2 separate regions of the Homo sapiens genome follow, and region 2 is linked to region 1. The links come from fine-mapping of genetic effects on gene expression. A gene starts in region 1. The other region holds a variant in brackets. All regions are shown on one strand. Distances are between the middles of the regions. Region 1 holds the start of RYK (receptor like tyrosine kinase). Region 2 overlaps RYK (receptor like tyrosine kinase).

Evidence for each region. PIP is the estimated chance that this variant, and not a neighbour inherited with it, causes the effect.
Region 2: its variant is the best candidate, but not a certain one, in a credible set for the expression of RYK in blood mononuclear cells (TOPMed, PIP 0.71).

Annotation. Positions count from the first base shown.
Region 1 is chr3:134,248,758-134,253,147 of GRCh38, reverse strand. It overlaps RYK (receptor like tyrosine kinase), which reads left to right and starts at 2,289. Exons shown (of 15, transcript NM_002958.4): 1 at 2,289-2,725. The coding sequence starts at 2,494. RefSeq lists a silencer at 2,115-2,934 and an enhancer at 2,270-3,048.
Region 2 is chr3:134,171,166-134,175,555 of GRCh38, reverse strand. All of the region lies in intron 13 of RYK (receptor like tyrosine kinase), which reads left to right. Among named protein-coding and RNA genes, the nearest start is that of RYK, 77 kb to the left of the region's middle. The variant T/G (reference allele first, on the strand shown) is at 2,037.

The DNA.
Region 1 (4,390 bases):
AACATTTGTTTATCAAAGTTCTCAAGGAAGCACATTGCTCGCTCCTGTGTCCCCAGTGCCTAGCGTGATGCCTGGCACGAGTCTTCATCGAGCTCAGGCTCTGGGCCAGGCTCAGTGCTATTGAATGAGGTTCATGAGGGTCCCAGGTTTGAACTGTTTGGAGGTAACTGGTGATGAAACTTTCACAGGAAGTGGTCATTAAAGGGAAAGGATTCCTTGTAATTACAATAACAACAGGTGTGACACCTACCCAGCGTCTGCCTAGATGTTTTACTTGTATCCCTCTCCAATTAAATCCTGTAAAAGCCCTGGGAGTCGGGCATTATCCCGGGATTTTTATGAATGAGAGAACCAAGGCTTGGAGAGTTTAATTTTCCCAAGACCACAGGATTAACAAGTACCAGAACCCAGCCAGGCCTGAGTGGGAGCTCTCTGCTGTTTACATCATAGGCCGCCTGAAGAAGTCACTGACAAGACCTAGTAATTAAAGAACCTCGAGAAGCTAGGAGTTTCATTCTTTGAGGACTGTGAGCTTTTTTAAAAGTGCAAAGAATATGCCATCCTTTAAAAAAATGCTTCCCATCTGAATTGAGATTCCTGTTCACACAACATGTTTTGAGCCTCCAGCCCTTCCTGGCAGAACCCTGGTAGCAGTGGCTGTCCCAACAGAAGTATTTTTGCTGACTTTTGTGGCTTAAAAGCCTTCTCTGATGGAGCACTTTTCCTCCCCTCTTCCTCTTCTCAGCCTCCTCCGGCAGGATGAAGGGTGTAAGATTTTGTGCTGAGGCGCTGAAGCTTGACAAATTGAGGCCAGCCTATCTCTAAATGGAATCCGTGTATCTTGCTAGGGAGGGAGAAAATCAAGTTCCAGCACTTCCCTCCTTATCAGCCTCTCCTTTTCCCTACCCTTCCCTGAGGATAAAAATAACCGCTTCCCAGGGCCTCACTGCGATGGAGCAACTGTGCCCCGAAGCCAGGCCTAGCTGTCAGAGCAGCTGCTCCCCGAGGCACGGCCCCGCGAGAGCCTTGGGGTCAGGACGGGGGCCTGTCCGCAGGGACGAGGTGTCCCAGGACAGGGCAGGGGCCCTTGGAGCCTCACCAAGAGAGGGGGCACTGGTGCAAGTTTGACCGCGATGGTGGGCGGCTCACAAAAATACATCAGGAGGCCCGGAAGTCCATGCACTGGCTGGCTCCACCGCCTTTAAGTACACGAGGTCTATCTGCAGTTCTTAACCTCTTTGAGGGCACAAGGACTCCCTAGAACAAATGATGACATACCACCTCTCTGTGTGCAATCAAGCATACACACAACACACAGAAACATGGACGTGGACACAAATACGCACGGAGACACATACACTTTTGCACACAGTTTCATATTATTGGAAGGCTGTCGAAGCCTGGTATGGACCACAGATTAACAACCCCAAAGGCAGGTTGATTATAGTGATGCAGAACGATTATAAAAAAAATAACAATTTGGCAGGGCGCGGTGGCTTACACCTGTAATCCCAGCACTTTGGGAGGCCGAGGTCAGTTGATCACGTGAGGTCAGGAGTTCGAGACCAACCCGGCCAACATGGTGAAACCCCGTCTCTACTAAAAATACAAAAAAATTAGTCGGGCATGGTTGCGGGCGCCTGTAATCCCAGCTACTCGGGAGGCTGAGGCAGGAGAATGGCTTGAACCTAGGAGGCAGAGGTTGCAGTGAGCCGAGATCGTGCCAGTGCACTCCAGCTTGGGTGACGGAGCAAGACTTCGTCTCAAAATAAATAAATAAAAATATAAAAATAAATAAAATTTTGTAACGTAAAAATAGGGTTAGTAAAGCGTGCTAAGATCTTTCTGGAAAACAAATATATGTAGTATAAATTCTAATAATAGATACGGAAACGATAAAGTTGATCACCGATGGTAAGATAAAGGATGATTTCTATTTATTTGAGTTTTCCCACTAAACAGGAAAGCATGCTGCTTTTTCGCAACCAGAACGGCCGCATCCAGGCGTTTCCGGGGACCTGGGGCGCCCACTGAGCTGCAGGCGCGGCCGGTGGCTCCAGCCTGGCCCGTCCGTCGGGAAAGGAGGGTTACAGACAATAGACAAGCAAACATTAGACGCAGTGACCGCGTGGGGCGGGGACCGGCTCTTGCGGAGAGGGTGACCCGAGCCCTTCGCCCGCCGAGGCACTTTAAAACCCCAGCGCGTTGCCCAGGCCGGCCCGCCCAGAGCGAAAGGTGCGTGCGCGCTCCCGGGGAGGCGGCGGCGCGCACGGGCGCGTCCCGCGGGCAGCCCCCAACTCCGGACGATGCAGCGAGGAGGCGGCGGCGGCGGCGCGCTCCGGAGGTCTGAAGCCACTGCTGGCTGCCACGGGCCGGCGGTGCGATGAGCTGGGCAGCCGCCCCCGGCTCGGGGCTGTGAGCGGCTCGGGGCCGGGGGTGGGCGGCGGTGCGGCGGGCGGCCGACGCTCCTCTTCGGCGGCGGCGGCGGCGGCCATGCGTGGGGCGGCGCGGCTGGGGCGGCCGGGCCGGAGTTGCCTCCCGGGGGCCCGCGGCCTGAGGGCCCCGCCGCCGCCGCCGCTGCTGCTTCTGCTTGCGCTGTTGCCGCTGCTGCCCGCGCCTGGCGCTGCCGCCGCCCCCGCCCCGCGGCCCCCGGAGCTGCAGTCGGCTTCCGCGGGGCCCAGCGTGAGTCTCTACCTGAGCGAGGACGAGGTGCGCCGGCTGATCGGTGAGTGGGGCCGCCGAGGCCGGGGCGGGCAGGTCGGGCCGGCTGGGGCAGCTTCCGGCCGCCGGCGGATCAGTCTGCGAGCCGTGGACCTCGGGCGAGTACCCTCCCCGCCCCCCGCGCCCGGATTCGCCTCGCGGCCCGGTCTCTGCCTGCCGTGCTGGCTGGGAGGTGTGGTCCCTGCCCGGTCCCCAGCTCTGGGTCAGCCTTCGTGCCGCCCTCGCTGCCCCGCCGCGATAGACCCAGATTCACCCCATCCCATCCTCCTCACTGCCTCCTTAGCCCTTCTCCCTAGAAGAGTCAGTCACCCTTACAACTTTTTTTCCTTGCTGCACGAAGTTTTTTTGACGCTTTCTATGTGTGTCACTCTAGGGCCCTCGATTTTGAATATCTCGAAATTCACGTTTTAGACTGAACTTGCAAACCCTTTGCTGTGGTTTTGATGCTCCAGTAGAGGCCACGCTCTGTGCTTACCCTTTTACAAAAAAAAAAAAAAAAAAAAAAAAAACGAGAGAGAAAGAAGGGGAGGTTATAAGGGCACCAAATGTTCGTGGCAGCCTCCAACTCTTGGGACGTAGATTTGGAGCATATGCTTAGATTCTAAGCATATTTTTAGTGAATGAATCGCCAGGTAGCAGACCTTTTTAGTTTCAATACCTTTTTGGTTTTTGCATTGGGTGTGTTGGGAGTTTGGACTGACTCTGTACTTCTGGGCCACTCTCCTACTTTTGAGTATCTTGAAGGGAAACAAGAACTTAGTCTTGGGTCGGTTTGTGGTTCCATTTACTTGCTTAGCTTTGTTGTTTGGGGAATTAATTTGAAAAATTGCTGGGGTCTTATGTTAGGACTTTGTGGATTCTGGAAATGACCCCTTAGAGGAAGATCTGACAGGAACGACCCCCCAAAAAGGAAGTCCTTGGTACCTAGACGTTTGCATTCTTTTGTTATTATGGCAGTATCTTTATTTCATCTGAAGGTGGTGCTTCTGAGTGTTTGAGGGGAAAAATTATTCTCTATTGCATCCATTATTTGTCAGTATTCTATTTTTTTTTAAGTAATAAGACTTTGTTGAGGTGTGTTGAGATTGACTCAGTGTAGAAATGGAATTACTGAAAGCAGACTCTTTAGACATTACATGTACGGATTTGCAGTTTTTAGCCAAAGAAGAATGCTCTTTTTATGAAGTCGTGCTCATTCTTAATCCTTCTTAGTCTAGCTGAGTTAGCTGAATGTAGTTTAGCTGAATTAAAACTCTACTTGGGGTAGTACTTGGAACACAAGACTAAGATTTAGGAAAAATAATACAAGACGACTCATATCACATTAATTTTAGAAATATTAACGTATTATGCATGGTTTTGTAAAGGCTTTTTGGTTAAAAGCACTTATATAGCTTGTGACTTTGTTTACATGGGTAAACAAAGTCAGAGGTGTAGGTAGGAGACAGAAGACAACCAGGGACTGACATTGAATTCCTGCCATATACCTGCCCCTACATGCTTTATACACATAATTTCTTCTAATTTTCTCGGGGCCCAGTGAGGTAGGTGGCATTATGCCTATTGTAGAGATGAGGAAAGTGGGGTTTTAAAGTAACTTGCTCAAGGTCACACAGTTAATTTTTTTTTAGACGGAGTCTCGCTCTTGTCACCCAGGCTGGAGTGCAGT
Region 2 (4,390 bases), 78 kb after region 1:
TTAAATGTTCTACTATTTTTATCTTTTGGGTTTTTAAAAAATCTGCTAGCTGTTCCCGGAAATTTTTATCCAGAAAGCAAGTGTAATTAGCTGCCAGTCAACCAGTTTATGGAGAGGAGCTGTGACCCAGACCATAGGCCAGCACTGTTTGTAATCTCATTTCATCCTCACAGTACTGCTCTGACAGAAGCACTTTTTTTTTTTTTTTTTTTAAGACAGAGTTCCACTCTTGTAGCCCAGGCTGGAGTGCAATGGCGCAATCCTGGCTCACTGCAACCTCTGCCTACCAGGTTCAAGCGATTCTCAGGCCTCAGCCTCCCAGGTAGCTGGGATTACAGGCGTGTGCCACCATGGGCACATGCCCAGCTAATTTTGTATTTTTAGTAGAGACGGGGTTTCACCATGTTGGCCAGGCTGGTCTTGAACTCCTGACCTCAGTTGATCCACCTGCCTCCGCCTCCCAAAGTCCTGGGATTACAGGTGTGAGCCACCACGCCCATTGACAGAAGCACTATTAACACTAGGAGATAGGCTGTGGTATCCCAGTTTTAAAGGTGAGGATTTTGAGACTCAGAGCAGTTACAGTAATTTCATTATTATTTCTTTCTTATATAAGAGGCAGACCAAATAGTTGCTAGATCATAAAGATGTTTTCTTTTTTTCAGGTGACCTCTTCTAAGTGTTATGGCTCATAAAATTTGTAAATCCCCCCGTCATCCTCTTCCTTTTGTCAAGTTTCTGGGTGGTTTTGCCACTTAGCCAGATCATAGTTGGGCCCTTTGTGATGTACAGTTTCAGAAGCCACGTTCACTTGTTCATATTTTACAGCCATGTAAAATTTCTGTCACTTGATTTCTTAGTCTTATTTGGAAGACTAAGTGTAATTTATTTTCCTGTCTCTTGCCTGTTAGACTTTATTATTGTTGCAGAATATTTAGGGATTAGGTAAAACTTCTGCTTATAGGGTCCCACATATGTTCACTCAGTGATAATCTGTTTGTGTTATATGTAAAATCCTATAGAATAATTTGCTTCTAAGCTTCAACTGTAAGAATTGGGCTTACTGTATCATTGTATTTTGTGTGTCTATATTTTAAAATTTAGGGCTACTCTTTTGTTTCAAAGTGTGTATGTTTTAAGGATTAATCTTTTAATCATGTATTACTGTACGCTAATTAATTATATTAATTGGTATATACTCATTTCCTCGGTGTATGAGTTTTCTGTGGCTGCTGTAGCAAATTACTACAACCTTGGTGGCTTAAAACAATAGAAATATAGTCTCTCGTGGTTCACTTCTGAGGCCAAATGTCTGAAATCAAGGTGTAGTCAGGGCTGGGCTCCTTCCAGAGGCTCTAGTGGAGAAGCAGTCCTTGCCTCTTTCAGCTCTGGTGGCTGTTGGCATTCTTTGGCTTGCGGTTCCATCCCTCTGTTCCAAGTTCATACCACCTTCTTCTTCACATACGTCTTTCAAACTCTCTTTGCCTCCCTCTTAAAAGGATACATATGATTTAGAACCCACTTACATAATCCAGAATAAACTTTTCCTCTCAAGATCCTTAATCACGTTTTGTCATGTAAGGTAATTACAAGTTTCAGGGAGTAGGACATGGGCATATCTTTGGGGCTACCATTCAGTTCACTGCAGTCAATAATTGAAATGATCTAAGATTTCTTTACTGAAAAACTGATATTCTAATTTAAAATCCTTAAAATGAGAATAATTTGAGAAAGGGGAAAATTCCTTTAATTAACTCTAACTACTAAATAAATTTTTTTTCCTTTTTAGAAACTATGTGCTATTTGATATTGATATGGTTTGGCTATGTCCCCACCCAAAATCTCATCTTGAATTGGAATTCCCATAATCCCCACGTCAAGGGCGAGACCAAGGGTGGAGATAATTGGATCATGGGGGGCAGGTTCCCCCATGCTGTTCTAGTGAGTCTCACGAGATCTGATGCTTTTATCAGCGTCTGGCATTTCCCCTGCTCACACTCACTCCATCCTGCCACCCTGTGAGGAAGGTGCCTGCT[T/G]CTTCTTTTCCTTCGTCATGATTGTAAGTTTCCTGGGGCCTCTCCATCATTGCAGAAATAAGTCAATTCAACCTCTCTCCTTTATAAATTACTCAGTCTTGGGTATTTATTCATAGCAGTGTGAGAAGGGACTAATACAGATATATTGCTCCTTTTACATACCAAGTATTTTGATAAAATGTGTTCACTTAATGTGAATGAGCAATTTACTTATATAATTTTTAAATTTTTTTTTTTTTTGAGACAGAGTCTCGCTCTATCACCAGACTGGAGTGCAGTGGCGCGATTGCAGCTCAGTGCAACCTCCGCCTCCTGGGTTCATGCGATTCTCCTGCCTCAGCCTCCTGAGTAGCTGGGACTATAGGCGCGCACCACCATGCCTAGCTAATTTTGTTAAAATCAAGGTCTTTCATTTTATATATCTTCAAAATACTTTGTTTTAACTCAAGATAAACTATTCTCAAAGAAACAATTTATCTGACATTTGTGAGATGAACAAAGTAAATATGAATGATTATGAGAAGGGATGTGATCTGCTTCACAGAGCAGTCTCAGAAGCTAACACTGAATGACAACCTGTTTCATGTTGTCCACAGCCTCTCCTAGCCAGAGAGGCATCGGGCATGGTGGGTGATGGGTGGCAGGATGAGGGAAATAAAGCCAGACTCTTGGATACTGAATCCCAGGGTTCAGCTTATAGAGCAGTGGGGTACTAGTCCTGGTCTGTTTTTCCAGAGCTCTGATGATAAAGAAAAAATCTCTCTCTAGCATTAATGTCTAGAAGTTAAACATACCAAGTAAAGCAGTACAAATATGCAAAGCAGGTTATATTCTTTTTAAATCTCTACGTAATGAGAACCTGGGCTTTTTTTTAGGGAGAGAAAGGTTACATTTTTGGTTTTGATTTTTATATTTTTCAAATGACATACGAAGGGAAAGCAGAGTTTGATTTTAGACCAATGCACAGCTGCTGTACTGAATGACAGTAAGGACTAGTTCTACTCTTTGATAATGTTTTTGGTTTTAGAGTTGCCAAATCTTTATTCAGAAATTCTGAATTGTAGCTGGAACTGTTTACCAGCTCTACATTAAGCAAAGCTATTTTCATGGAGTGGGAAAGGGGACAGGAGGAATTGGTTTGGCTTTGGTTGTAGAACATAATTTTAAAACATAATATCAGTTGAATTAGAGCAGTGTGATCTCAAATTTACTCCTTTAGTAAAAGCTCACATCTAAACATTTTTAAATGTAGAAAAGTGAAGTAAACTTTTCTTAGTGTTTACTTTGAAAATTTTATTCCGTAGTTGATTTAAAAGATGGATTCACTCGTCTCTTTGGGATGTTAATTTTTTTATTTCCAGTGGTTGATTTAAAATTTTTATTTTGTTATTTATTGAAATATAGTTGCCTTTGCTGAAATGATATGGCTGTTGTGGTGAACCAAAACTAGTTCGATGGGCAGAAAATGGAAGATAATTCTTAGATGATAATCTATAAGTATTTCGTGTAATTTGAAGAGGTTGGAAATCTTTTTATTATTCTCTTAGAAAAAGGAGCATTGATAGCTTGTATTTCAAAGGGGTATGCAAGATGGCAAGTAGTGCTATTTGCTTGCACAGTGGAGGCCCCCAAAATATGTATTACTTTTTTTTTTTTTCCTTAGCTACTTCTGTTGCCCAGGTGGGAGTGCAGTGGTACAGTCATAGCTCAGTGTAGCCTTGTACTCCTGGGCTCAAGTGGTCCTCCTGCCTCAGCCTCCTGAGTAGCTAGGACTACCAGTGTGTGCCACCACACGTGGCTAATTCTTTTATTTTTTGTAGAGATGGAGGCTTGCTGTGTTGCCCAGGCTGATCTTGTACCCCTAAGCTCAAGCGATCCTCCTGCCTTGACCTCTCAAAGCACTGGGATTACAGGCGGGAGCCACTGCACCCAGCCTGTATTACTTAATTTAACGTATTTATTTCTGTGTAGGTATACCATTGTATAATTAAGCGATGATAGGAATTATTTTTTTGTAACATTTATGATTAAATATTTTGTAGGACCTACAGAGTGAAAATTAAGTTAGATAATATACTTTCAACAAATGAGGCTATAGCTAATAATAAATCTCCAAGCAAGATGCTCCAAGAGCGTTGAGTCTCTTCAGCTGGGTATTAGCTGGCAAAGTTCATGTTGAGGATACATGGTTTGGTTAGGCAGAACATTTCAAATTATATCAGAAATAGTTATTTTTATGGTTATGACATTTTGCAGGAGTTCACACATTTTATGTAAGAATCTGCCATCATCAGAATGCAGTTACACCAAATACTTAGTTGCTTGTTCATGTGGCAGCTTTATTTTAAAATATC